Homo sapiens: one gene and its partners. The protein of the gene in region 2 purifies or fractionates together with the protein of the main gene of each other region. This does not show direct contact. Each region holds a gene or a part of one and is shown on either strand. Other genes may lie near its edges. The genes, in order: FTO, OSBPL11, LZIC, SEC23IP, PDCD4, C12orf57 and FAM114A1.

What was found.
Region 1: the proteins of OSBPL11 (region 2) and FTO purify together in Homo sapiens (co-immunoprecipitation; one large-scale study listed by IntAct). This does not show direct contact.
Region 3: the proteins of OSBPL11 (region 2) and LZIC purify together in Homo sapiens (co-immunoprecipitation; one large-scale study listed by IntAct). This does not show direct contact.
Region 4: the proteins of OSBPL11 (region 2) and SEC23IP purify together in Homo sapiens (co-immunoprecipitation; one large-scale study listed by IntAct). This does not show direct contact.
Region 5: the proteins of OSBPL11 (region 2) and PDCD4 purify together in Homo sapiens (co-immunoprecipitation; one large-scale study listed by IntAct). This does not show direct contact.
Region 6: the proteins of OSBPL11 (region 2) and C12orf57 purify together in Homo sapiens (co-immunoprecipitation; one large-scale study listed by IntAct). This does not show direct contact.
Region 7: the proteins of OSBPL11 (region 2) and FAM114A1 purify together in Homo sapiens (co-immunoprecipitation; one large-scale study listed by IntAct). This does not show direct contact.

What each region holds. Positions count from the first base shown.
Region 1 is NC_000016.10:54,113,156-54,116,655, reverse strand, and holds part of FTO (alpha-ketoglutarate-dependent dioxygenase FTO), read right to left. Parts: 3' UTR 1-3,500.
Region 2 is NC_000003.12:125,592,698-125,596,711, reverse strand, and holds the start of OSBPL11 (oxysterol-binding protein-related protein 11), read left to right. Parts: upstream 1-1,214; 5' UTR 1,215-1,911; coding exon 1,912-2,075; intron 2,076-4,014. UniProt on the Homo sapiens protein: Plays a role in regulating ADIPOQ and FABP4 levels in differentiating adipocytes and is also involved in regulation of adipocyte triglyceride storage. Weakly binds 25-hydroxycholesterol. Interacts with OSBPL9 to function as lipid transfer proteins.
Region 3 is NC_000001.11:9,936,892-9,940,391, reverse strand, and holds part of LZIC (protein LZIC), read left to right. Parts: intron 1-3,500.
Region 4 is NC_000010.11:119,899,230-119,902,729, reverse strand, and holds part of SEC23IP (SEC23-interacting protein), read right to left. Parts: intron 1-3,500. UniProt on the Homo sapiens protein: Plays a role in the organization of endoplasmic reticulum exit sites. Specifically binds to phosphatidylinositol 3-phosphate (PI(3)P), phosphatidylinositol 4-phosphate (PI(4)P) and phosphatidylinositol 5-phosphate (PI(5)P).
Region 5 is NC_000010.11:110,870,717-110,874,727, reverse strand, and holds the start of PDCD4 (programmed cell death protein 4), read right to left. Parts: upstream 2,801-4,011; 5' UTR 2,710-2,800; intron 1-2,709. UniProt on the Homo sapiens protein: Inhibits translation initiation and cap-dependent translation. May excert its function by hindering the interaction between EIF4A1 and EIF4G. Inhibits the helicase activity of EIF4A. Modulates the activation of JUN kinase.
Region 6 is NC_000012.12:6,942,774-6,946,502, reverse strand, and holds C12orf57 (protein C10), read right to left. Parts: upstream 2,482-3,729; 5' UTR 2,382-2,481; coding exon 2,330-2,381; intron 2,124-2,329; exon of another isoform or gene 2,028-2,123; coding exon 1,851-2,027; intron 733-1,850; coding exon 581-732; 3' UTR 501-580; downstream 1-500. UniProt on the Homo sapiens protein: In brain, may be required for corpus callosum development.
Region 7 is NC_000004.12:38,930,306-38,933,805, reverse strand, and holds part of FAM114A1 (protein NOXP20), read right to left. Parts: intron 2,356-3,500; coding exon 2,194-2,355; intron 1,572-2,193; coding exon 1,432-1,571; intron 1-1,431. UniProt on the Homo sapiens protein: May play a role in neuronal cell development.

The DNA of each region.
Region 1 (3,500 bases), on a different chromosome or scaffold from region 2:
AGGAAGTCATTCTTAGCCGGCTTCCCCTCCTCCCACCCATCCTCTGCAAGCTGCCCGGCTTTCCCTACAGCCGCAATCATCACAACACGCCTGTGCCGTCTCTCCCCTTTATGGTTGTCAAATTGATTTCACCACCGCGATACCTATGGCTCCCAATGAAACTTAATTAAAAATACCATTTAATCACAGAGTAACAAAGGCAAACGGGATAAACGGCATTACCACTTCGGCGCATTTTAATCCACACCGCTCCTCTCCATCTGAATCTGTCTGGATGAGAATTGCCTTTTCAAACCAGAATCCCCTTGTCTTCCATGTGCTTGCCTCTGACAGATCTCCAAAATAAACAGTTTTTAGCGTGGCATGGATCCAAATGTATGCAATTTGCCCAGTGGTAAAATCAGCCCTAACTAGAGCAAGAAAAAAAAAAAAGAAGTTGCATTTGAAAATACCTTCCTTCCCTCGAAGCATACAAAAAACCGTCTACTGAATGTGGGATCCGTTAAACGGGTCCTATGGACTCTCAATTCTGGCATCCCTGGATTCAGTGGAGTGATGGGTTTTGAAGCTTATTACTAAAATTGTGTCACCAATGATGCCATGACCCTGCTCTTTTATGTCTAGAAAGCTCTGTGGGGCTGGAGCCTGCCAGTGAGGGCGTCAGGAATGGATCTGCTGGGGTGTGGAGGGGAGGGGCTGTTTAGAGTGAACTCTGTAGGCAGGCAATCTAGAGGGGCCGCAGGCCATCTTGAGATCTCACCCAGCCAGGGGGACATTCCCAGTTGGAAAGCCGCTCCTTTGGATTAAGCTGTTTGCTCTCTCAGAGACCCTCTGGAATCCAGATAGAGCGATGATCTAATGCATAAAAATATCTCACCAAGTTACTTCCATGCCCTTGCTGCTTGAAACCCTCTCATGCTTCCTGGGGTGTGTGGAATAAAACCCGAGCGGCTCCCGTCTGCTCTGCCCTACATCTCCCCTTCTCCCCTCCTGGTCTTCTCGGCTTCAGGCTCAGGGCCCTTTTCCTTCCTTGGGCACCCCCTCCCAAGGCTCTCCTGCCTGGGCCCGCCGTCCCCTTTCCTGGGAAGCTCTTCCCAACCACCTCCCTTCCCCACAGCCTGATCAAGGTCCCCTTGGTCAGTCACCATCTCCTCTTGTCCCTCTCCCAGTTGGTTCCCTTCCTGGCACTTACAACCATCTGGAACACTCTTGTTATTGATTTGCTGCTTACTGTCTATTTCCCCACTATGGGGTAAGTTCCTATTTTGGTGACTACATATCCCAGGGCATCCACTAGCCTGGGAGGCAGAGATCTGTCTTGGGTCCCCAGGCTTGCCTCATTGCTGAGGCTGTGGTCAGCACCAAGAAACATTCATGGGAGGAAGGGAGGGAGGTAGGGCAGTCAGTAGCACCTCATTGCAAAGGGATCTCTTAGATCACTTTTCTCAAGAGACCTGGGACCACAGGGAGGACTGGCAGGAAAGCAGGAGGGGGCTGCTGCTGATGGAAGTGGTCCCTTATCCGCACACATGGGGAGAAGGGTGCGATTTCTGGGCCTGTGCTTCCAGGAAAGTCCTTCTCCAATTCACAGCAGAAGCAAGCCTTCCTTTGACCCTGCAGGATACGAGTTCATTGTCATTGCCCGCACCAGCTGCTTTTTTATTGGGTCTTGCCCACCTCCTTCTACCCACCTGAAACCTCCCTGGAGAGCACATGAAATCCTCAAACACATGATCAATGAAAGTCACCATTTCTTTCTTCTCTCGCTCCGTGGCCCAGGCTGGAGTGCAGTGGCATGATCTCGGCTCACTGCAACCTCCGCCTCCCGGGCCAAGCGATTTGCCTGCCTCAGCCTCCCGAGTAGCTGGGATTACAGGCACACACCACCACACCCAGCTAATTTTTGTGTTTTCAGTAGAGACGGGGTTTCACCGTGTTGGCCAGGCTGGTCTCGAACTCCTGACCTCCAGTGATCTGCTGCCTCAGCCTCCCAAAGTGCTGGGATCACCATTTCTTTAGAGCAAATGTGATCTCACCTTTCGGATTCACTTAAAGTAGTGATTTCTCCAACCCTGTTGCACATTCCCTGACTCCACCTGGAGGACTTTGAGAACTAATTCCACCTGGGCCCCACCCAGGACAGTGAAGCTGGCTCATCCATGCAAAAGGAAAAAAACAGCAAAATCTCTCGGTTTCTTATCTCATCCTTTTAATATGTTTATTGGATATGAATATTTTATGATGCAAATGACATTAGTACAAGCAGTCTACGAATAGAGTTCAATAGTCACACACATATATTGGGGTAAGCACAAAATATTTCGACTAGAGGGGTGCAAGCAAGCAGGTTTGGAGAGCACTGACATGAAAGGGTGATGCAGGTCAGGTTCACAATTAATGAAAAAACGGAGAAAAAGAGGGAGTATGGCAAACCATAGGCTGGGTCATGCCCCAACTCGCAGTGGGAAGATGCTTATTTAGCTTGCTGCCATGCGAGGATGGGGGCCTAGGACTATTGGGTGTTCTGAGTTCTAAAGAAAAATGCAGACCTTGGCTTGGCGCGGTGGCTCACGCCTGTAATCCCAGCGCTTTGGGAGACCGAGGTGGGTGGATCACGAGGTTGAGATCGAGACCATCCTGGCCAATGTGGTGAAACCCCATCTCTGCTAAAAATACAAAAATTAGCTGGGCGTGGTGGCACGTGCCTGTAGTCCCAGCTACTTGGGAGGCTGAGGCAGGAGAATTACTTGAACCTGGGAGGCAGAGGTTGCAGTGAGCTGAGATCGTGCCACTGCACTCTAGCCTGGTGACAGAGTGAGACTGTGTCTCAAAAAAAAAAAAAAAGAAAAGAAAAAAGAAAATGCAGACCTTTTAATTTTATGTGAAATCTCCCAATTTTTAAATATGGGCACCTAATGGGATATAACAAAAAATGAACATCATAGGGGCTAAAGAAAACACTGGGCTGGATGGCCCGAGGGTGCCCCATCTGTGACTTTTAAACACCACGCCCTCCTGGTCTATGTTATTTCATTTATTTCATTTAATCTCTGTAATGACCCTGTGAGACACTGCTTCACTTCTCTTTTACCAATGAGGAAACTGAGGCTCAAAGACACCAGGGAATGAATCCAAGGTCTGAGAGACTCGAGTCTCAACACGATGAGACCCTGGCTGCTTTGCTTAATGTGACATTTCTGTGGCTATTAACTGCATTCATGGGAATGAGTGCAGGCCGTGAACCACTGCAATTCTGGTGGCAGGAAAGAGTTTATTCTCAGTGCACCTTCAATAGGCAAAAGCTCTTCAACTTCTCAACTACTGTGAACAACTACACGAGAAAGCAACAGGCTGGGGAGACGGGGGGCTAACTATTCTCACGATTTCTTGGGACACCAATGGGCAGGAGCCAGGTCAGAAAGGGAGAGATGTGTTAATGGCATCACAAGACAAAACTGGCGGAGGGGTCAGCAAGAGAGAGGAAAACATCTACATCCAGG
Region 2 (4,014 bases):
GGCTCAAGTGATTCTTCTGTCTCAGCCTCTTAAGTAGCTGGGATTACGGGCACGCACCACCATGCCCGGTTAATTTTTGTATTTTTAGTTGAGAATGGGTTTCACCATGTTGGCCAGGCTGGTCTCGAACTCCTGACCTCAAGTGATCCGCCCACCTCGGCCTCCCAAAGTGCTGGGATTACAGGCGTGAGCCACTGTGCCCAGCCTCAAGTCATGTTATTATAAACTAAAATTAGCAATTAGGAGAGACTTTAGAAATCTACCCATGCACTCTTGTTTTACAAATCCAAAACCAAGGCCTAAACAAGGTGAAAGATTTGTCTGGGGTCTGGAAGAGTACCTAGCTCTGTTCTGAGATCTCTAATTTCCATGACAGCTTCTTTTTAATTTATAATAATGATTGGCTTTACTCCAATGTCATGCTTGCCCCCCCCCCACCCCAAGTAACTAAAACGTACAGATGTTTGCTTCGTTCTTGTACTTTCTTATTTTTGTAAGCTTTCTTCCTAAAATGCCTGGAACGGCCCCTCAAATGGAAGGCTAGGACGTGGTTAGGAAGGCGGGCACTCGGCCGGGCGCGGTGGCTCACGCCTGTAATCCCAGCACTTTGGGAGGCCGAGGCGGGCGGATCACGAGGTCAGGAGATCGAGACCATCCCGGCTAAAACGGTGAAACCCCGTCTCTACTAAAAATACAAAAAACTAGCCGGGCGTAGTGGCGGGTGCCTGTAGTCCCAGCTACTTGGGAGGCTGAGGCAGGAGAATGGCGTGAATCCGGGAGGCGGAGCTTGCAGTGAGCCGAGATCGCGCCACTGCACTCCAGCCTGGGCGACAGAGCGAGACTCCGTCTCAAAAAAAAAAAAAAAAAAAAGGAAGGCGGGCACTCACACACCAGAAGGGAACTCTCTAGTGCTGCTGGCTCCTTTGTTTCTTCCTCCTTCACTGTCCGGGTTCCTCGTTCCGTTGCGGCGCCCTCCCTCGCCCTCCCTCGCCCATCAGCCAGTCGCCCAGCTACCAGCTCCCAGAGCCTCCGCCTCCTTCAGGGACCCGCCGCCCTGACCCAAGATGGCGCCAGACGCTTCGGCTGTGAGGGAAGTGAGCTCACGCTACTCCGGAAGGGAAGGCGGGAAGGGAGCAGGGGGCGGGGGGTGGCTGACCCGCTGTGGGGCTGTGGGGCTGTGGGGCTGTGGGTGGGGCGGCGGCCGCGGCCCTGGCATTCGCGCTTGGGTCTGGAGATAGCGCGAGAGACTCACCGGCTCCTGGGAACCCAGTCGAGGGCCCGGGCCAGGGGCATAAGAGGAAGTTGTCCCGAGTGGCTCGCCTCTGGCCCTGGGAGAGGCGGCCCCGGGAGCCGGCGTCCCGCCCCCGGCGGCCTCATTCCCCGACCCTCCTCCCCGGCTGCGCGCGCCGGCCCTGGCTGTATCTCGGGGGCTGCGGCGGGAACTGCCGAGCGGGCTTGACTGGACGCACTGCCTGAGGACCTGCGGAGGAGACGAGGGAGCGCGGCGGGTCAGCCCCGAGGTTAGGCCGCGGGTCCCCTGTCCGTGGCGCTCCGTCCTTTTCCCAGCCGTCTTGGCTACAGAATCTGCGACCTCCCCACACTCCTTCTCTTTTGAGTATGTCACTTAAGTCTTCTCGCCGGATGCTTTTTCCTCCTTGCTTTTGCCGGAAAGGAGAGAGATACATGTGAAGGATATCTGTCCTCGTTGCTTCCCCTGCCCTCTCAAAAGTTTAACTTCTGTGGGAATGTGTATCTTCCTTTTCTGGACCATTTGACAGTCCCGCCCCAGCCGCCGTGTGATTTAGCAACCGGTATCATATTCAGATCAAATCTTAAAAAAAAAAAGTCACCTACAGAACTACAGAATTGTTCTCTCCCGCTCAAGAAGGGCAAGTGGACTTTGGCGTTAAGATGCAGGGGGGTGAACCAGTGTCCACAATGAAAGTCTCGGAGAGCGAAGGAAAGCTGGAGGGCCAGGCCACAGCGGTGACCCCGAACAAGAACAGCAGCTGTGGAGGTGGAATCAGTAGCAGCAGCAGCAGCCGCGGTGGCAGTGCAAAAGGCTGGCAGTACAGGTATGCTCCTTTCTCCAAAATTATTTCCCGAGGTGGAGGTAGGGGTGAATATGCCCTGGAGGCTGCATCCCGCAATTGTTGAAAGATAAAAGTTTTTTCACTGGCTTCCAGAAGCTACTGATACATCTCGTTTGGATCTGGGACCTCGCCTAAAAGATTTAATCCATTCATTTGTTCATTCAACAGGTATTTATGGAAGGCCTTTTGAGGAACACAGAAATGTATCCCTGAACTTCCTCTACAGTCAGAGAGTTAATGCTTCCTCAGATTTAATTCTGTACTCACTTCTGCTTTTGCCTATGTTGCAATTTATTTACAAGCCAGCTTTCTCTGATAGACTGCGAGGGCAGGAACTGTTTAACTCAGCTTTCTCGAGAGGGTAGCAAATACTGGTGCTCAAAACTTACTTGTCCAGAGCTTCTCCAGAATCAGAAAAGATTCTTGCCCTGAAGGTATTTGTGACTTGGAAAGGGGAATGTACATAAGTAATTGGAATGCAAGGACAAAGGTAGAGATCCTAATGCCTCTGATAAACTAAACCTGAGCCTGGAGATGTTCAGTTTGCGTTGCTCAGGCCACTTCAATGCTCTCTGTGTTGATGAGAAAGTCTATATTTGTTAATTTTCACTAATATGAATGAACAACTTAAGGAACAGGAGGAGAGTCCTGGAGAGGCAACAAGTTTTGTTTTTGTTTTTTCATATATGAAGTGTAGGGAGAAAGAACTATCCAGAACCTTAAGAATGAATGAAACAAACCAGCACATCCCATCGTATTGGAACTAAAGGGATGAATTCTTAAGTTTTGATTGACTCCTATGTGCCTAACTGTAGTCCTTTTTAGCCTTTGTGCTTATTTGTGCTTGTGAAATTTTTGTGAAACTTGGAAGGGATTAAAGCCAAGATTTTGTGAGGGATATACATTTATCATGAATAATATTCATATGTATGAAATATGCATGACTATATTAACATATAGAAGTGAAGTATAGAAGATTATAATTTTTTTTTTTTTTTTGAGGCAGAGTCTGGCTCTGTCACCCAGGCTGGAGTGTGGTGGCGCGATCTCGGCTCACTACCACCTCCACCTCCTGGGTTCAAGCGATTCTCGTGTCTCAGCCTCCCGAGTAGCTGGGATTACAGGCGTGCGCCACCACACCTGGCTAATTTTTGTATTTTTAGTAGAGATGGGGTTTCACCATGTTGGCCAGGCTGGTCTCGAACTCCTGACCTCAAGTGATCAGCCCTCCTCTGCTTCCCAAAGTGCCGGGATTACAGGCTTGAGCCACCGCGCCTGGCCAGAAGATAACTTTTTATTGGTAAGTGACTGTAGGATAAGAAGATATATTCAGTTAGTTTGAGAGGTCTAGGCCCGCTTTTGGAATCAGCATGATTTTTTTGTATGTGTGTGACCTGTGGCAGGGGCCGCGGGTCCCCTGTCCGTGGCGCTTCGTCCTGACCTGCTATGGGGCTGTGGGTGGGGCGCCGCCGCGGCCCTGGCATTCACATTTGGGTCTGGAGAGAGCCGGGAGTCTATTAAGTTGGTTGTGAGGTGCCTTCGAATGTTATTTTTGGTTTACAACTTTCTTGATGATATTGTTTGCAGCACAATGGTTTTTAATTTTCATGAAGTCTAATGAGTTTTTTCTTCTCTTGTTATAGTTTTGTGTCACATCTAAAAAAACATTGTGAAGTTTAAGATGACAAAGATTTACACTTATGTGTTTGTCTAGGAGTTTTGTTTTAGTGCTTATGTTTAGGTTTCTGATGCATTTTTAGTTCATTTTTCTTTATGATCATTTTTTTTTCTTTTGTGAAACATCTACATATGTGTTTTTTATACATTTCCTGTTAGGTCTTAATATTTTTCTTTTTAATATGCTTGATATCTCTTATTAAAATGTCAACATTAAATACCAATATTCCTTTAAAAATATTTT
Region 3 (3,500 bases), on a different chromosome or scaffold from region 2:
CTGGCTAACACGATGAAACCCCGTCTCTACTAAAAAATACAAAAAAAATAAGCTGGGCGTGGTGGCGGGTGCCTATAGTCCTAGCTACTCGGGAGGCTGAGGCAGGAGAATGGTGTGAACCCGGGAGGCGGAGCTTGCAGTGAGCTGAGATTGCTCCACTGCACTCCAGCCTGGGCGACAGAGCAAGACTCTGTCTCAAAACAAACAAAAAACATGTTTTAATAAGTTACCTGGAAAGTTTTGTGGTTTGTTTTTTGTTTTTTGTTTTTTTTTGAGTAGGAGTCTCACTCTGTCTCCCAGGCTGGAGTGCAGTGTCACAATCTCAGCTCACTGCAACCTCTGCCTCCAAGGCTTGGATGATTCTCCCACCTCAGCCCGCCAAGTAGCTGGGACTACAAGCACACACCACCATGCCCAGCTAATATTTTAATTTATTGTAGAGACGGGGTTTCGCCGTGTCGGCCAGGCTGGTCTGTAACTCCTGGTCTCAAGTGATCTGCCTGCCTTAGCCTCCTAAAGTGCTGGGATTACAGGTGTGAGACACCATGCCTGGCCCCAGTCAATAGGATATTTAATGAAACTTGACATACTGATTGTTAAATTCATCTGGAAGAGAAAGTGCACAAGAAGAGCCAAGAATTTTGGGGAGGAGAAAACAATAAAGGCAAGTCATTATCAGTTATCGAGATATATCAGTGATAAAGCCATAATAATGTAAATAGCAAGAAATGTTGCCTGAGGGCTGGACACAGTGGCTCATGCCTGTAATCCCAGCATTTTAGGAGGCCAAGGCCAACATGGCGAAACACTGTCTCTACTAAAAATACCAAAAAAAAAAAAAAAAAAAAAGGCAGATGTGGTGGCACACCTGTAATCCTAGCTACTCAGGAGGCTGAGGCAGGAGAATCACTTGAGCCCAGGATGTGGAGGTTGCAGTGAGCTGAGATCACATCACTGCACTCCAGCCTACTGCACTCCAGCCTGGGTGACAGAGCGATACTCTGTGTCAAAAAAAAAAGAAAAAAAAAAAAGCCAAGTGGGGTGCCTCATGCCTGTAATCCTAGCACTTTGGGAGGCTGGGGTGAGTGGATCATTTGAGGTCAGGAGTTCAAGACCGACCTGGCCAATATGGCAAAACCACATTTCTACTAAAAATACAAAAATTAGCCGGACGTGGTGGCACGCACTCAAGAGGCTGAGGCAGGAGAATTGCTGAAACCCAGGAGGTGGAGGTTGCAGTGAGCCGAAATCGTGCCACCGCACTCCAGTCGGGGCGACAGAGCAAGACTCAGTCTAAAAAAAAAAGAAGTGATTCCTTAGGAACAGAAAATTATCAATGACTAGCCAATTGCCCTAATACCCTTTACTAGTCAGTCTTTTATTTATTAATCAATATGCCACCTTTATTGTAGACCAAATTCTCCTGGATCAATAAATAAAAGACTGATTAGTAAAGGGTGTTTTTGAAAGGAAAGTTAGACCCCTACTTCAAAGCATAACAAAAAATGTTGCAGGTGGCTTTTGTCTGCAGCTAGAAAACAAAAATTTGTAAAAGTCTTGAATATAAAGATGTATAAATCTTGAGATGGTTAGGGCCTGCCTTCATGGGTCACAAAACGAAGAAGATTTAAAGGAGAAGATAGATTTGTCTATTAAAAAATAATAATTTGCCATGACAAAAAAACATAAAATTTAGTCAGGAGACGAAATAATATTTGCAATTACAAAGGCTTCATTGCTTGATCTTAGGAGGTCAAAGCTGCATGAGCCATGATCATGCCACTGCACTCCAGCCTGGGTGACAGAGCAAGACCCTGTCTCAAAAAAGCCAAAGGCTTTGTATCCATGTTATAAATCAGTAAGAGAAAGATAACCCAGCAGAAAGATGGTCACATTTCCAAAGAAGAAATTCATATTAAAAGATGTTCATCAGCTGGGCTTGTGGGCTTACACCTATAATCCCAGCATTTTGGGAGGCTGAGGTGGGAGGATCTCTTGAGCCCAGTTCAAGACCAGCTTGGGCAACATGGGAGACCCCATCTCTACAAAAAAATAAATTAGCCAGGTGTGGTGGTGTGTGCCTGTGTTTGCAGCTACTCAGGAGGCAGAGGTGGGAAGATGGCTTGAGCTCGAGAGGTTGAGGCTATAGTGAGCTATGATTGTGCCACTGTGCTTCAGCCTAGGCAACAGAGTGAGACCCTATCTCAAAAAAAAGTTCATGCTCACAAGTAATTAGGTCAATATACATAAGACCAATAAGATAATATCTGGAGTGTTTGGGGCTATAATGATTCATTTTATAAAGCAAAGTCACATTTGATCTACATATATATATATATTTCCATTTACCAAATTTGTTTAGAGTAAGATAGACCAATAATGAAGACTTCTAATTAATATGTCAAGTCACATAAAGAGGACTTTCAGGTATTTTTGTGGGGTGTTATTACTATATGAGTTTAAACTTTTATATCTAAATTAAGATTTTCTTTGTTTAACTATCTTTCATATACCTGTAGCTTTTTTTTTTTTTTTTTTTTTTTTGAGTCAGGGTCTCGCTCTGTCAACCAGGCCAGAGTGGAGTGGCAAGATCATGGCTCACTGCAACCTCAAATTCCTGGGCTCAAGCAGTCCTCTCACCTAAGCCTCCTGAGTAGGTGGGACTAGAGGCATCCGCCACCATGCCTAGCTAAGATTGTCTATTCTTTGTAGAGATGAAGTCTCACTATATTGGCCAGGCTGGTCTCGAACTCCTGGGCTCAAGCAATCCTCCCACCTCAGGCTCCCAAAGTGTTGAGATTACAGACATGCGTGAGCCACTGCACCCAGCTGCCTTTTTTTTTTTCTGAAATGTAGTCTCACTCTGTTGCCCAAGCTGGAGTGCAGTGGCGTGATCTCAGCTCACTGCAACCTCTGCCTCCCAGGTTCAAGCAAGCCTGCTGCCTCAGCCTCCCAAATAGCTGGGACTACAGGTAATTTTTTTTTCTTTTTTTTTTTTTGAGCCTGAGTCTTGCTCTGTCGCCCAGGCAGGAGTGCAGTGGCGTGATCTCGGCTCACTGCAAGCTCTGCCTCCCGCGTTCACACCATTCTCCTGCCTCAGCCTCCCAAGTAGCTGGGACTACAGGCGCCTGCCACCACGCCTGCCTAATTTTTTATATTTTTAGGAGAGACGGGGTTTCACCGTGTTAGCCGGGATGGTCTCAATCTCCTGACTTCATGATCCGCCCACCTCAGCCTCCCAAAGTGCTGGGATTACAGGCGTGAGCACCGTGCCTGGCCTTTTTTTCTCTTTAGAGATGGGGTTTCCCCCATGTTGCTCAGGCTGGTCTTGAACTCCTGACCTCAGGTGATCCACCCACCTCGGCTTCCAAAAGTGCTGGGGTTACAGGCGTGAGCCACCACATCCGGCCTTTTTTGTATTTTTAGTAGAGATGGGGTTTCACCATGTTAGCCAGGATGGTCTTGATCTCCTGACCTTGTGATCCACCCGCCTCGGCCTC
Region 4 (3,500 bases), on a different chromosome or scaffold from region 2:
ACTGATGTTAGTAGATTATCCTACATGTATATCTGGACAATTACTTAGTGTAATAACTAGACCCCAAAGCAATTTTAAGAAGAATTTTTAAACCTAACAAAACCCCAAATCAAGGATAAATGCTTGAGGTGAGGGATATCTATACCCCATTTATCCTGATGTGATGATTACACATTGCATGCCTGTATCAAAATATCTCATGTAACCCATAAACATATATACCTACTATGTACCCACAAAAATTAAAAATTAAAAAATTTAGAAAAAAATCAATTACAAGGTGAACCAGACCTTCTCACAGAACACAAAGTAAACTAACACCTTTACAGAAATCAATCTAGCAATACATCTCCCATGATTTATTTAACCTTTTTTGTGTGTGTGAGGCGGAGTTTGCTCTTCTTGCCCAGCCTGGAGTGCAACGGCGCAATGCACAGCCTCCGTCTCCCGAGTTCAAGCGATTCTCCTGCCTCAGCCTCCCAAGTAGCTGGGATTACAGGCATGCGCCACCACACTCAGCTAATTTTGTATTTTTAGTAGAGACAGGGTTTCTCCAGGTTGGTCAGGCTGGTTGCGAACTCCCAACCTCAAGTGACCAGCCCGCCTTGACCTCTCAAAGTGTTGGGATTACAGGTGTGAGCCACCACACCCGGCCTATTTAACCTTTAAAATGTGCCTACTCCTTGACCTACTCATTCCATTTCTAAAAATTTATCCTAAAGATAGAATTATAAAAACAAATAGCCCAGGTGCAGTGGCTCACACCTGTAATCCTGCCACTTTGGGAGGCTGAGGTGGGTGGATCACCTAAGGTCAGGAGTTCGAGACAAGCCGGGCCAACATGGTGAAACCCTGTCTCCACTAAAAATACAAAAATTAGCTGGGCGTGGTGGCACAGGCCTGCAATCCCAGCTACTTGGGAGGCTGAGGCAGGAGAATCGCTTGAACCCGGGAGGCGGAGGTTGCAGTGAGCTGAGACTGCACCACTGCACTCCAGCCTGAGTGACAGAGACTCTGTCTCAAACAATAAATAAAAAATAAAAATAAAAAGTTATCCCCAAGGATATACATCAAAAGGTTATTTAAAATAGGAAATTGGTGTGTACAACTGTCAAAACTCAGCTAATTGTACACTTTAAATAAATCGAATTGTATACTGTAAATGGATGCCTTTTACTGTATGTAAATTATACCTCAATAATGTTGATTATAAAATCATAGCTAATAAATTTGGAATGTTTGCAAAAAAATAAATAAAATAGGAAATCACTGGAAATAATCAAAATGTCTAACAGAAACCTGATTAAATAATATTTAACTCAAATGCTAGATCCTCCAGCGCCATTAAAAATGTCTTATATCCTTTCTGCAGGAGATAGCTAAAAAAAAAAATAAGTAAATAAACAAAAATAAAAGTTTTAGAGGATAGACACGATGGTTCACACCTATAATCCCAGAACTTTGGGAGGCCAAGGAAGGAGGATCATTTGAGGCCAGGAGTTTGAGCCCAACATGAGCAACACAGCAATACCGTTTCTACAAAAAAATCTAAAAATCACACGGACATGGTGGGGCACACTTGTAGTCCCAGCTACTCCTGAGGCTGAAGTGTAGTTCAAGGTTGCAGTGAGCTGTAATCACACCACTGCACTCCACCCTGGATGACAGAGCAAGACCCCCCCCCCACTCTTTAAAAAAAAAAAAAAGAAGAAGAAAAAGAAAAAAATTTTAATGTTTTAGAAAAAATCTTAGTAACATTTAAAGTATGTTCACACAAAAAAAAAATAGATTATAGAAACCATAGGTATTATATGTTTGCCAAAAAAAGACATATAACAAAATGAAAACAGTGGTTATCTATGGACATTTTTTATTAAATTGAGTATTCTGCATTTTTCAAATTTTCTACAAAAACGATTTTAAAATCAGACTAGACTTATTTTAAAATTTTTTAATTAGACACCATTTTGGGACAGGTGTGGTGGCTCACACCTGTAATCCCAGCACTTTGGTAGGCTGAGGCAGGAAGATCACTTGAGGCCCAGGAGTTTGAGACTGCAGGTGAGCTGTGATTGCGCCACTGCATTCCAACCTGGACAACAGAGTGAGACCCAGTCTCAAAAAAATATATAATTTAGCCCATAATCCCAGAACTTTGGGAGGTCAAGGCAGGAGGACTGCTTGAGCCCAGGAGTTTGTGACCAGCCTGGGCAACATAGTGAGACCTCATTTCTACAAAACATAAAAAAAAAATTAGCCAGGTATGGCAGCATGTGCCTGTGGTCCCAGCTACTGGTGAGGCTGAGGTAGGGGGATCACTTGAACCTGAGAATTCGAGGCTACAGTGAGCCGTTACCATGCCACTGCACTCTAGCCTGAGTGACAGAGCAAGACCTGGCCTCAAAAAAAAAAATTTTATATATATATATATACACACACACACACACATACACACACACGTACATATACATACACATATATAATTTCTAAAAAATCATTTTGAAGTATTACATCAACACTCAATTTCCTGAGATTCATAGCTGCACTGTGCACATAAGAAGAATGTCCTTATGCTTAGCAAATGTACACCAGGAATTTAGGAGTAAAGAATCATAATGTATTTTACTGACCTTCAAATATTCCCCCCAAAATTGCATATATACAGAAAGAGAAAAAAACGATGAGGGGAAGGGAGGGAAGAGGGAGGGGCAGGAGGAGAAGCAGGAGGAAGGGGCAGGAGAAAGGGATGGGGGAAGAGGGAGGGCTCACATATGCCAGGGTGTGCACATGCACAAATTAAAAAACAAACGGGATGAAATGTTAATGATAAGTAAACCTGAGTAAAGGATATTAGAGTGCTCTTTGTACTCTTTTTATTTTTGCAACTTTTCTTCAAGTTTGAAATTATCATTTTTTAAACTTTTATCTAAAAACCTTTTTAAAAATTTAAGCAACAAACTACAATTAGTTTGTTATAGTTAGCAAAAATACTAACTATATACCACATGCTATGAATCTGGTTACTTTTCAGAATGCCGAAATCCAACATTGTCAAAAATTTGTGTATTGGTATGATTTAAATGAAATGATAAAACAGAGTCCATTCTCTATCTCTAACAGAGAAGTTAGTTACATTCTGATCACAATACTGCTATCTCCACCACACTGAAATGGGTTCTTAATTCTTTTTAATCATTTCTCTTTTTGTTTAATTCTGTTGATTTTTCTTTGGAAATCAAATAAACAATTAGTTGGGAAAAATGCATAAGGGAATTTCATGAAATTTACCCAATGCATACGTTATTCCACCAACTCTCCCTAGATAGAGTTTGACTGATCTAGATCCAAACTCCATAAAGAAATTACTGAAGTAATCAATTTTAGTCCCTGTAATTGAGTGTTTTGATTGACTAGTGTAATTGAAAGATGAGAAACTAGCAGTCTGTTAAGACAATAACCGCTTCAATTCTCCTATGTCTCTAGACAACACTTATTTTTAC
Region 5 (4,011 bases), on a different chromosome or scaffold from region 2:
AACAAAAACAAATGGACCTTATGTTAAAATTATAGGCTTCTTACTATGGTATAATCCTCAGACTAATATGCTATCATATTGCTTGGGAACTTAAGAAAATGGTGAGATCATTCTCTAATTCTGTTAAGAATAAATTAATATATGTGAATCTTTATAATCACTTTTCACTATAACTCCCGCCAACTTTAGATATGAAAAAAAAATCTTAAAAATATGTAGAGATTCATATAAATATATGAACAAAAATGGTTTGCAAATCTAAACACTCAGCATCCTTCATGGCTGAAAAGGCTACATTCTGTTTTAATTCCATGCATGAAATACATATAGGAAAGGAATAATGTCATATGATACGTGTTTCAGTTTTTTAGAGTTCCATTACAAAGTCTTTTTCATTCTTGATGAAAGTATAACTTTTGAGAGAATACTTTCTGCAGAACCTAATAAGCGAAATGATTATAATTGATGTTCATAAAGCCCTTTACAATTCAAAAAGAATTGTACATGTATTATTTAATGTACCTTACAGAAAAACCTTCGGGTAGGTATTCCACCTTACACACAACTAAACAGATTCAGAGAGGGTAGGTGATATGTCCAAGGACAGACAGCTGCTTAGTGGAACAGCCAGGATGAGAATCCAGACCTTCCAAATCCAGTACTGTTTGCACAAGTTCAATCCAAAATTTTAATATCCCACAGGAAGATTCTTTTCAAGGGTTAACAGAAGCTTCTTAAAACAGACTTCTGCTGTTCAAACTTTTAAATGCTGTTTTCCAAACACTAAAAATAATTATTTTAAACTATTATACAGAAGGCATTCCGTCAGACAAAACTGTCAGGAAATGACTATCATCTCTTTTATTAAGATAAAAACAAAGTTATCTTAATAAAAAAAATAGTCCTGTGTCTTTAGGCAATGATAACCCGATCAGGAACTCAAGTCATATTTGACAGCAACAAACACGTTTTAAGAGTTTAGATAAGACATGTTCCACGTTTTTACGCTCTTTAAAGTAGTAGGATTTTTTCCAATTTATTTAACAACCCTTAATTGGCCCAAACAAGAAAATATAAAGCAAAAAATCCAAACGCTATTTCCTTCATACTAACCTACAAAAATGAATTTTCGATGAGAAAACTATACATACAAGTTAGAAGAAAATGAAGGCTGACATTAAACACTGTTCTTTTCTCCAGTGTGTTACACGAAATATACAATCAGAAGTATTCAACTGCCAAGACATTCCCTAAGAGACAGACCCTCCACTCCCCCACGAAATATATACATATGTATTTCCTGAAATATACCTCATAAATTGCTCTGGCATTTTGGGGAGTCAAGCTTTGGCCATTTATTAACTAGGATTACTTGTATTCATTCTTCGGCTACGAACGGCTAATTAGCAGCTTAAAACCAGCTAAAAGCATTCTACTACAGTAATGCAAAAGCAAGCACTACAGATAATATTCAAGCGGCATTTATTTTTGCAGTCCTAATATTTTTTCCTTTCACATTAGTACCACAGAAAAAGCCAGTCAATTATAATTCAAATACACTTACTGAGATATTAACGTATTCAATAAGCCTATAATGAAGGAATATTAAGGGCATAAATACCAGTAACTCCTTGCTTAAAAAGCACTTGGTGGTTTCCCAAAAAAGTCACGTTAAGAATATCAAGATTGTAACAATTAAAGTAAAAATACAAGTTAAAAACAGGGGAAACCCTTTTTTCCCCGACACCTAATCGCATTTCTGATCGTTTTCATCATTTGTAGACACTACACAGTTGCTGGCTACGTAGCGAGTTCTCACAAGGGGGAGGGGGGCGAAATTGACGTCTGCAGACAGTTTTGAAGCTCTTGCAAAACCCCATGTACGTTACAGCATCAAACTGACAAATGGAGAAGATGGCATGCGTTTCACAGAAAGGGGGCTCCCTTCCCGGCTTTGTTTTCTCTGGGAGATTTTATTTTACCTAAACTAAAAAAAAGAGACCCTTTGCCGGAAGACGGGCGCGACGAAGTTCGCGCAGGGATGGGGCGGCGGGCACGTGTTCGCCTCCCAGCGCCCCCGGCGAGGATAGCGCGCGGCCCCTCCCCACAGCGGCCGGGCCTGTTCTCCCGCAGCGGGCTCAGGCTAGGACCCCCGAAGTCCCAGCCCGGGTCGGCCCCCGGAAGGGGCTGGGCCGGGGCCGAGGCCGGGGCTCCGGGTTCACGAAGGACAGGGGGCCGCATCTTCAGAGGATTCCCAGGGAGGGCAGGGGGCGGGGAGGGCGCGAATCTTCCTCACAGGATTTCAGTCCAGCCGGAAACACGCCTTCCAATCCCGGCCCCCGAATTCAACCTCCGCCAGAGGGGGAGGAGGGCTGAGGGGGACCTTCAAGGGCGAGCGCCTCGCGCGCCCCTCTCAGTGGGGAGATGGCTCCGGGAGGGGGCGGGCCCGCGCCGACACGCTCCAGGCTGGGCTCAGAAAGAGGGAACCAGGCCGGATGCCCGCAGTCCGGGGCGTTGGGGAGGGCGCGGCTGGACCTGCGGGGCTACAAGAAGGCAGCCGGACCCCCGCACCGCAGGCCCGGACCTGACAGGACCGCGACCCCCACGCCTCCGCCCCCGCCCCCTCCCATCTTGCGGCTGCCTCCGAGGAGGGATGGGGGAGAGGGCGCAGTCTTCCCGAGCGTGTGAGCCGCGCCTACTGGTACTGACCCCTCGGGCCCCCGCCGCTGCTCGCCCAGGTTCCTGGTCAGCCGGCCCCGACCCCGCTCTTCTGTCTCTGCCGCCGCCTCGGAGAGTCTCTGGCCCTTCTCGCTCTGTTTGTTTTTGTTTTCTTCTACCCAGTAACACGGGGGCGAGAGGGCGGCGCTTATTGGCCGAGGCCGGGTGGTCGGCTGGCCAATCGTGGCGGCGGAGCCGGAGCTGAGGAGGAAAAGGGAGAGGAGTGAAACGTGGAAAGTTGGGGAGGGGCGCGGGAGGGCGCATGCGCATGTGGCTCCTGGGACTGGCTGGAGCGGGAGTTGAGCGGGAAGTCGGGGTGGGGGTATGTTGGGAGGCGTGGCGGGATGGGAGCGTTGGGAAAAGGGCAGTGCTGGGGGATGGGGACGAGGATGAAGCTTCCTCGACCCAGCTCACCCATTCTCCTCACAGGGCGTTCTGCAAACTCGGCTGAAGCAAAGGTTTTGAGCTTCCTGATGGTCCCTGCCTCCATTTCTAGAAACTGCTTAGGCGAACACTCCAAGTGATCAGCCTGTCCGATTCCTCCTCCCTCTGGCCGCTGCTTTCTCTGTGGCTTCCAGTTTCTGGAGATCCCATGCTAAGAAGTTTCTCTCAGCGAATCCCCTCAAACCTTTGAGATGGAAATAATTCCCATTTCACAGATATAAAGCAGGCTCCAAAACTCTTTGAAGTTCCTTTGCTAATCATGACTAGCCAAGCCTCTGGCGTTCAAACGCACAAATTCCGGCCTCCAGTGCTGGGGTTCTCAGCCATGGCTACAATTTCTGTATTGAAACTTCCACCTCCCCTCGCTGTTCTCTGTGACTTTTCCTCTTGGCTGCATTGGTTTTGGCTGGTACTATCCTTACTCTTTCAAGGTCACGGTCCCCTGAGGGTGATAACCAGAACCTTAGGCTTCCTTTGTGTTCCCAGGCGGGGACTTAGCCACTGCCTCTGATCAGATTTTTCAGTTGTCTGATGGGCAGCACCGAATGATTGCTTGTGCTCTCCAGAACCCAACTGCCTCATCCCGCACAGGCCAGCGCTTTCCCTTGGCTGCCCAGTCACCCTGCCTGGGAATCATCTCTAATGCTACTATTTCTCTGCACACACACGCACACACACACACACAAACCTTCACTGGCTTCCCATTGCCTCTCTTGAGTGTCAGCGCCTCGGTCGGTCATTCAAGGCTCCGTGATGTGACTTCAAGACTTTCAGGCTGTGTCTCCACACATCTCCCCATATGCTTCCTCACCCCCTGGTAGTTCTTTATATATCACCTTGAAATGTCTC
Region 6 (3,729 bases), on a different chromosome or scaffold from region 2:
CCCACAGCGGCCAGCTTCCCTGCAGCCCCAAAGCGGGAGTACAGCAGGCCCGCCTGCTGGTCCAGGGCCGCCTTCCCCCGGGAGAGGAGGAGCCACCTGGAGCTCCACCTGGAGCTCAAGCTGACAGAGCGGCGGGGTATTGGGTAGGGGAACAGACCAGGAAGTAACCCTGGCTGAGGAAGAGCAACCAATGGGGGAAACCTCTCCGTAGGCGGAAACCAAAGGGCCTAAGGAAAATCCCTAACAGCCCAGTTCCTCAGAGAAGGAGGTACCCCCTGTGCAGGCCCACCCACCCAGGGCGCTGAGGGACCCACTCCAGCCTCTCAACCTGCCCCGGGGGAAGGGGAGGAGCCTCAGGTAGGGTTAGGCCCTGGGGCAGGGTTAGGCCCAGCCAGGACCATAGGGAGGAGCTGTTCAGGGGGATGGGGCCTGGAAAGGCAGAGGGAATCAGGGAAGGAGAGATGGGGGTTGTCAGGTCCGCAAGAGACTGACACCAAGGCTAAGTCACAGGCGCATTTATTATTGTCTGGAACATCAAGGCCTTTCCTCCCCTGGCAGTGGCACAAGGGAGGGCCAACTCTCAGGAGGCGGCCACGCTGCCACCAGCAGCAGGCCCATGGGGTGGCAGGGTCATGGGCGGCAGAAACAGCGCCTTCAGCTTGCCTGACAGGCTGGCGATCTCAGGATCCTGGGCTTCGTAGGACTTGACCAAGCGAGCAAACTTAAGGACACCTGCAAGAGGGAGTGGAAGGTCAACCCTTCTCCTAAGGACCAGCGTGCCTAAGACACCTGGAGGGGGTGGTAGTCTAAGCATGAACTGCTCCCCCACTGGCTGGGCAGCTGTTTGCCAAACAGGACGCATGCAGGCCTCTGTCCCGTGTGGTTTGGATGATGACATTTGGTCTACACTGGGCACAACTAGATGGGATGCAGTGAATGAAAATGTCCCAAGGCAGTGTGCTTCTTGCTCTCAGGTGAACCATTTTAGCAGTTTAGTCACTGGAACCCCAAGAATGAACACGAGACCCCAGGTCTGTAGCTGGAACTCAGGAAGGCTATGAGGCAGCAGAGCTGAATCAGTCAACACCTTTGGGGAACACCAGGATCTCACCAAAAATTTAACCACCAACCCCCCCCAAACAAAAATTAGCTGAAACACCCTGGAGAGACTGCAGCCACTGCTGTCATGCAGACATGTCACTAAAAGGTGGCACAACAGCATTTAAGTCCAGCTCTGCTACTCGAGAGTCTGCACCATTAGAGTTTGCTTCCTCATCACAAAATGGAATAATAATGTGATTAACAGTACAGGTTGACCATCCTTAATTAGAAAATCCAAAATCTGAAATTATGAGTGCCAGTGTGAGGCCGAAAATGGAAAATTCCACACCTGACTTCATAGTGGGGGGTGGGGGAGACTGTAGTCAAAACGCAGTCAAAACTTTGTCTCATGCACAAAATTATTCAGACTATTATATAAAATTACCCTCAGGCTATGTGCATAAGGTGCGTGTATATGAAACAAAACAATTTCGTGTTCAGATTTAGGTCCCATCCCCCAAGATATCCATGTATATGTAAATATTCCGAAATCTGAAAAAACCCGAAACACTTCCGGTCCCAACCATTTCGGGTAAGGGATACAGAACCTCTACTGTACAAAACGCAACTCGGACGCACAAGCTCAGGGTAGACCCTGGGCTCTGAGTGCCAAGAATGTTAGTCAGATTGTGGCTGCCGCCGTGTGGCGAGAAAGGGGACAACCGCTCATGGGCCCACAGATCCGGCGCCCTCTCCCGACCCAACTCCCGCCTTCCCGCGTCTGACCCGCCTTCCCGCGTCTGACCCACCTTCCCCGTCGCAGCTGAAGCCATAGGCTTTGATAACCTCCTGCTGGATCTGCGTGGCCACGGGCAGCACGAATTGCAGCATCTTACCCATGTCGTTGCAGGCGTTATCCCGAGCCTCGTCCATGCGCACTGCATTCTCCGGGGCGGAGAACGCCTGGATCACCTCCGCGAGGACCACTGCGCGCCAGAAGCATCCCAGGGAGGCGTCCCGGGTAGGCGTCGGAGAACAGACAGCGGGCCCAGCGGAGAGCGCAAGGAATTAGTGGATTGAGGCTGTAGGTAACCCAATAAGATCCCAAGTCTTGGGGGCAAGCGCCCCACTTAGAAGGACGGTACCCGGCGTCCCCTACCCCATTTTCCCGGCGGACGTAGCCAGGTTTGTCGCCCCACATCCTCCGCCCGCATCCTCCCCAGACCAGCAGCCCATGCCTTGACTACCCCAGGCCAGCAGCCTATGCCTTGACTAGGACGATTCTCACCCTTTGCTTGCTCAGCGCTCAAGGCCGCCGGTTGGGTCGAGGCGGACGCCATAGGGCGTCTGAAGCTCTAGGTTCAGCGGAGGTAAATGGAAAACTCACGAATAAAGAGCCACGTCCTACAACCGTTCCCAACGCCCCTGGGAGCGGAAAGGAAACAGCATCCGGCGCAGCCGGAAGCGCCCAGGCGTGGCCCAAACCTTCATACCCCAAGCTTACAACTGCATCAAGACCACCAAAACTACCCATAATTTTTGCACAGTGAAAACAATCTATCATTGGCAACAAACATCATAAGAGGGGCTTTCCGGTAAAAAGCCAGAAAGCCTACTAGACAAATTCTAAAAGAGCTGTAACACTGCTGCGTATGTGTTTGGAGAGAAGATGGGATATAAAGGAACTCCACAATTGATGAGGGTGAGCTTAGGTGACTTTTTTCTTGTTCCTATTACTGTATAAACAACGACGCATGTGGTAACTTTCAGTAGGAAAAATAATATTCTAAGGAACTTACTTAAGTCATTCATTTCTAGAGTTCGCGAACATTTGTTCTCAGCCCATGCAAATGAGTTCGGTGCTGATTGGTTGAGAAAGCAGCCAGTCACAGCCCCTTCGTTGTTGTTAAGCCCGGAGACCTGGATTCGGCAGTAAAGGCCCAGAGCAAAAGCCGTTGTCGCAGTTTCCTAAAGGCCTTGTCTATTGATGAGCGATGGAGCCTAATGCCCGGCCCGATTTCCCTTCCCTTCCAGGCTTTTATCACCCACTCCCTTCTCAAACTGTAGGTGGTTAAGGATGCCAGGTACTAATCGCCTGGACCTATTAAAACTAGCCCACCCCACCCCCGCTTCATAACCGGCTTTGTTTTTTGTTTTTGAGACGGAGTCTTGCTCTGTCGCCAAGCTGGAGTGCAGCTGGGGGGGATCTTGGCTCACCATAACCTCCACCTCCCGGGTTCAAGCGATTCTCCTGCCTCAACCTCCCAAGTCGCTGGGACGACAGGCGCGCGCCACCATGCCCAGCTAATGTTTTGTTTTTAGTAGAGACAGGGTTTTGCCATGTTGGCCAAGCTGGTCTGGAACTCCTGACCTCGTGATCCGCCCGCCTCGGCCTCCCAAAGTCCTGGGATTACCAGCGTGAGCCGTCGCGCCTGGCCTCATAACCGTTTCTTAAAGTATTCCACGGAAAGGTTTCAGGACTCTGAAGCCCTTGTTCCGGAGGACTCTGGTGGCTCCTAGCAGTGAGACCCGTCTGAATAGATTCCTAGAACTGACCACGTCAGAGGTGGGCCTGTCCCAGGCCTCTAGTGTTTGGTTGGTTGGGGTGTCTTTTGTTTGTTTGTTTTGAGATAGGGCCTTGCTCTGTCACCCAGGCTAGAGTGCAGTGGTGCGATCATGACTCACTGT
Region 7 (3,500 bases), on a different chromosome or scaffold from region 2:
CATCCCTGGATATTTTCAGGGGCTCTATTTTGGCTCCTGTGTCTGTCTAATAATACGAGGGTACTTAGGCCTATGTTAATTTTCCACATCACAGTATACAGTCATGTGCATAAAAGTTAAAGGCTTATTTTTCAGCTCCATACCAACTATTTTCATGAATGCTCCATATCAACTATTTTCATGTATATTCACTAGATTGCATATTCATATATGTTACACATATATTTTAATTTTACTTAATAAACTAATGATAATAGCTATTATTTATTGAAGAACATGATATAGGACAACACATACATGCACACATACAACCCACAGTGAACTGGTTAATATTAGTGACCGTCATCACTGGAGTTTGGAACGTGGAGACCTGGTATAAGTCCCCAGGAGCAGTGGAGTGTATTTGCCTATTTTGTGAATCTAGCTAGAAGTTACATTAAAGTGTCCTTTCTCTATTCATGTATATGTTGAAAATGTAATTACCCTCAAAAGGTTTTACTTCTAAGACTTTGATCTATTAAATAAGTACTTTCACGCCTCATGCAATGATTTAGTGTGTTTTCCCTTAAATCTCTTCATAAATAATTCCTAGAATGGCTAGTTAAGTCTTCTTCTTGCTAACATAATGCACTTGCTAAAGAAATCCTTATTTCTGGCTAGGCGTGGTGGCTCACGACTGTAATCCCAGCACTTTGGGAGGCCGAGGCAGGCAGATCACAAGGTCAAGAGATGGAGACCATCCTGGCCAACATGGTGAAAACCCGTCTCTACTAAAAATACAAAAATTAGCTGGATGTGGTGGTGCGCACCTGTAATCCCAGCTACTCGGGAGGCTGAGGCAGGAGAATCGCTTGAACCTGGGAGGCGGAGGTTGCAGTGAGTTGAGATCGTGACACTGTACTCCAACCTGGTGACAGAGCGAGACTCTGTCTCAAAAAAAAAAAAAAATCCTTATTTCTTAAGATGACCGTAGAACAATGGAATTGGTTGACTTGAAATTTGAATCTTTGGCCAGGTATGGTGGCTCATGCCTGTAATCGTAGCACTTTAGGAGGCTGAGGCAGGAGGACTGCTTGAGCTCAGGAGTTTGAGACCAGCCTGGGCAACGTGGCCAGGCCTGGTCTCTGCAATTAATTAAAAAATTAGCTGGATGTGGTGGCACGCACCTGTGGTCCCAACTCCAGGGGAGACTGAGGCAGGAGGGTCACGTGAGCCCAGGAGTTTGGGGCTGCAGTGAGTCATGATCATGCCATTGCACTCCAGTCTGGGTGACAGAGTGAGATCCCGTCTCAACAAAACAAAAAACAAAAACAAACAAAAAGAAACCTGAATCTTCTAGTGGCTTAGAGGGTGTGGGTGTGTATGTGTGTATCTGAATGGTACCTATATATAAAACTGGGAAAATAAGAATTTAAAGTAACATTTACTTACTTTATTAGAACTTTTGCTTGGTCCTGAGCTGGTTTTTCCTCTTCTTGTCCATGAAGAATTAATTCTGCTACTTTATGAAGCTGCTCAATACAGCGCGCTGTTACCTCCGCCAGACTTTCAATGGACGACATGTATACTTCCTGAAATGAATAGACACAAGCAAGAAATTTTTTACTGAGCAGATGCTTTTTTAAAAAAATGCTGTGACATTAGAAGTGATATAATTCTTTCAAAAATACCCCAAATATAACCCGAAATAGTTAACCTGATGATTACAAGCATATCTAAGACTTTAAGTGTAATGTTGCCAGGAAGGGCTGTAAAGCCCCCACGGATGTGGCAGGTCTGTTCACAGCTGCATCCCCAGTGCTTACAGCAATGCTGGGTACAAAACAGGCAGGTGCTAAAGAAGGTGTGTGGAAGGCCGGCTGAATGAACAGAGCTCAATGGATATTTTTCCTTACAGTGATCTAATCACTGCAACCTCCACCGCCCAGGTTTAAGCAATTCTCATACCTCAGCCTCCCAAGTAGCTGAGAGTACAGGCACACGCCACCACGCCCTGCTAATTATTATTATTATTATTTTGTATTTTTACTAGAGACAGGGTTTCACCATGTTGGCCAGGCTGGTCTCAAACTTATATTTCTATAACACGGAACAAATGAAAAAGAAATGGCCTCTCCTCAATTAAAATTAAGCTGCTAATAAAATGAACACACTCTTATTACCTTGTAGGCAGACAATCTAGAATGAATTTACCTCTATGGTCTTAGTTTTCTTTTCCTCCTTTTTGTCTTCTTGAGGGTCTTGAGATTTCTCTTCCTTTTCTTCCTTCTTTGTTTCTTCTTCGGACACTTTTGCCACATCTACTGACACCACGGTTTGATCCTCTTCCACCCAGTCATGAGCCCTCTTCATGGCCTGCAGAGGTCCCCAACCAAACAATCCTTTTATGGCGCAAATATGGAAACTAAGTCATTCCAACCCCAAGACTAGAATCAAGTGTCTCTAAGCCTTCAAGAATGGATCTCTGTATGTTTGGAGGATGACGGGGCAATTTTTCAACCCCCGAAAAAGATAACCTTGTTGTTGCTTTCTGGTAAATATAAAGTAGAAAAGAGGGACAGAACAGAAGGTATGGAAAGAACAATGCAAGCCTGAGGACTCTTCAAAAAGCATTTAAAAATGATATTCAGATAAGAATAAAAATGACAGTCACATTGAAAAATCTATGGTATATTTTTCACTTTTCATGACCATCTATAAAAGAATAATAGTATTTTTAAAAATATGTGTTAGAAATTGAGCCATGGGGCCGCGGCTACAGCAAATGTCCTCATCTGATATATTTCAGGAAGCTCTTCATGTTTCATGAACCTAACAATGTATCATGCTGGGAAGGTGAAGAAGGGCTCTGCGTTTCTTGATTCATGACAGGTCTTCCACCCTCAAGGGGGAGAAGAGAAGCGCTGCTGGAAAGGTCTGGTGCTGCTCTGTGTCTAGTTTAATTTCACATGAGTGCAGTTTACGCACTCTGTGCCCTGCAAAATCATGGCTAAATTAAACAATCAGAAACCTCCTCCCCTGCCTGTTATTCCCTGAATTTAGAACGAAGGGGCAGACTCACTCCAATTTTATCATTATAGTTTAAGCTGTTTGCTTAAGTAAAAGTTGTTTTGGGGCTTACACTAAACTTACTTCCCACGTTAAATCTTACACGCCAAAGTTAAAAATATCAGAGTGTTGAATGGTAAGTTAACAGCAAGAAGATCTGGGGAGAGAAAACCCAGCAAAACTGTCCTCAGTGTGTCCTCTATTACAGACAAAGATTTAACCCTAAGCAAATAAGCCAGTGGAATCTCAGAGCCACCACATGCCCCCTCTGAGCAGTGGCAGATGCTGCACGGAGATGAATGAGGCAACTTCCCACTGTGTTCAAGTCACTGACCTGCCAGAATCAGTGACCCCCATCAGAGATAAAGAAATTACTCATCTCACCTCCTCATTCTGCCCTTTTCCTCACCCACCTGGATAAGTGAGTACCTATGTAAACCACTGCTTGCTAA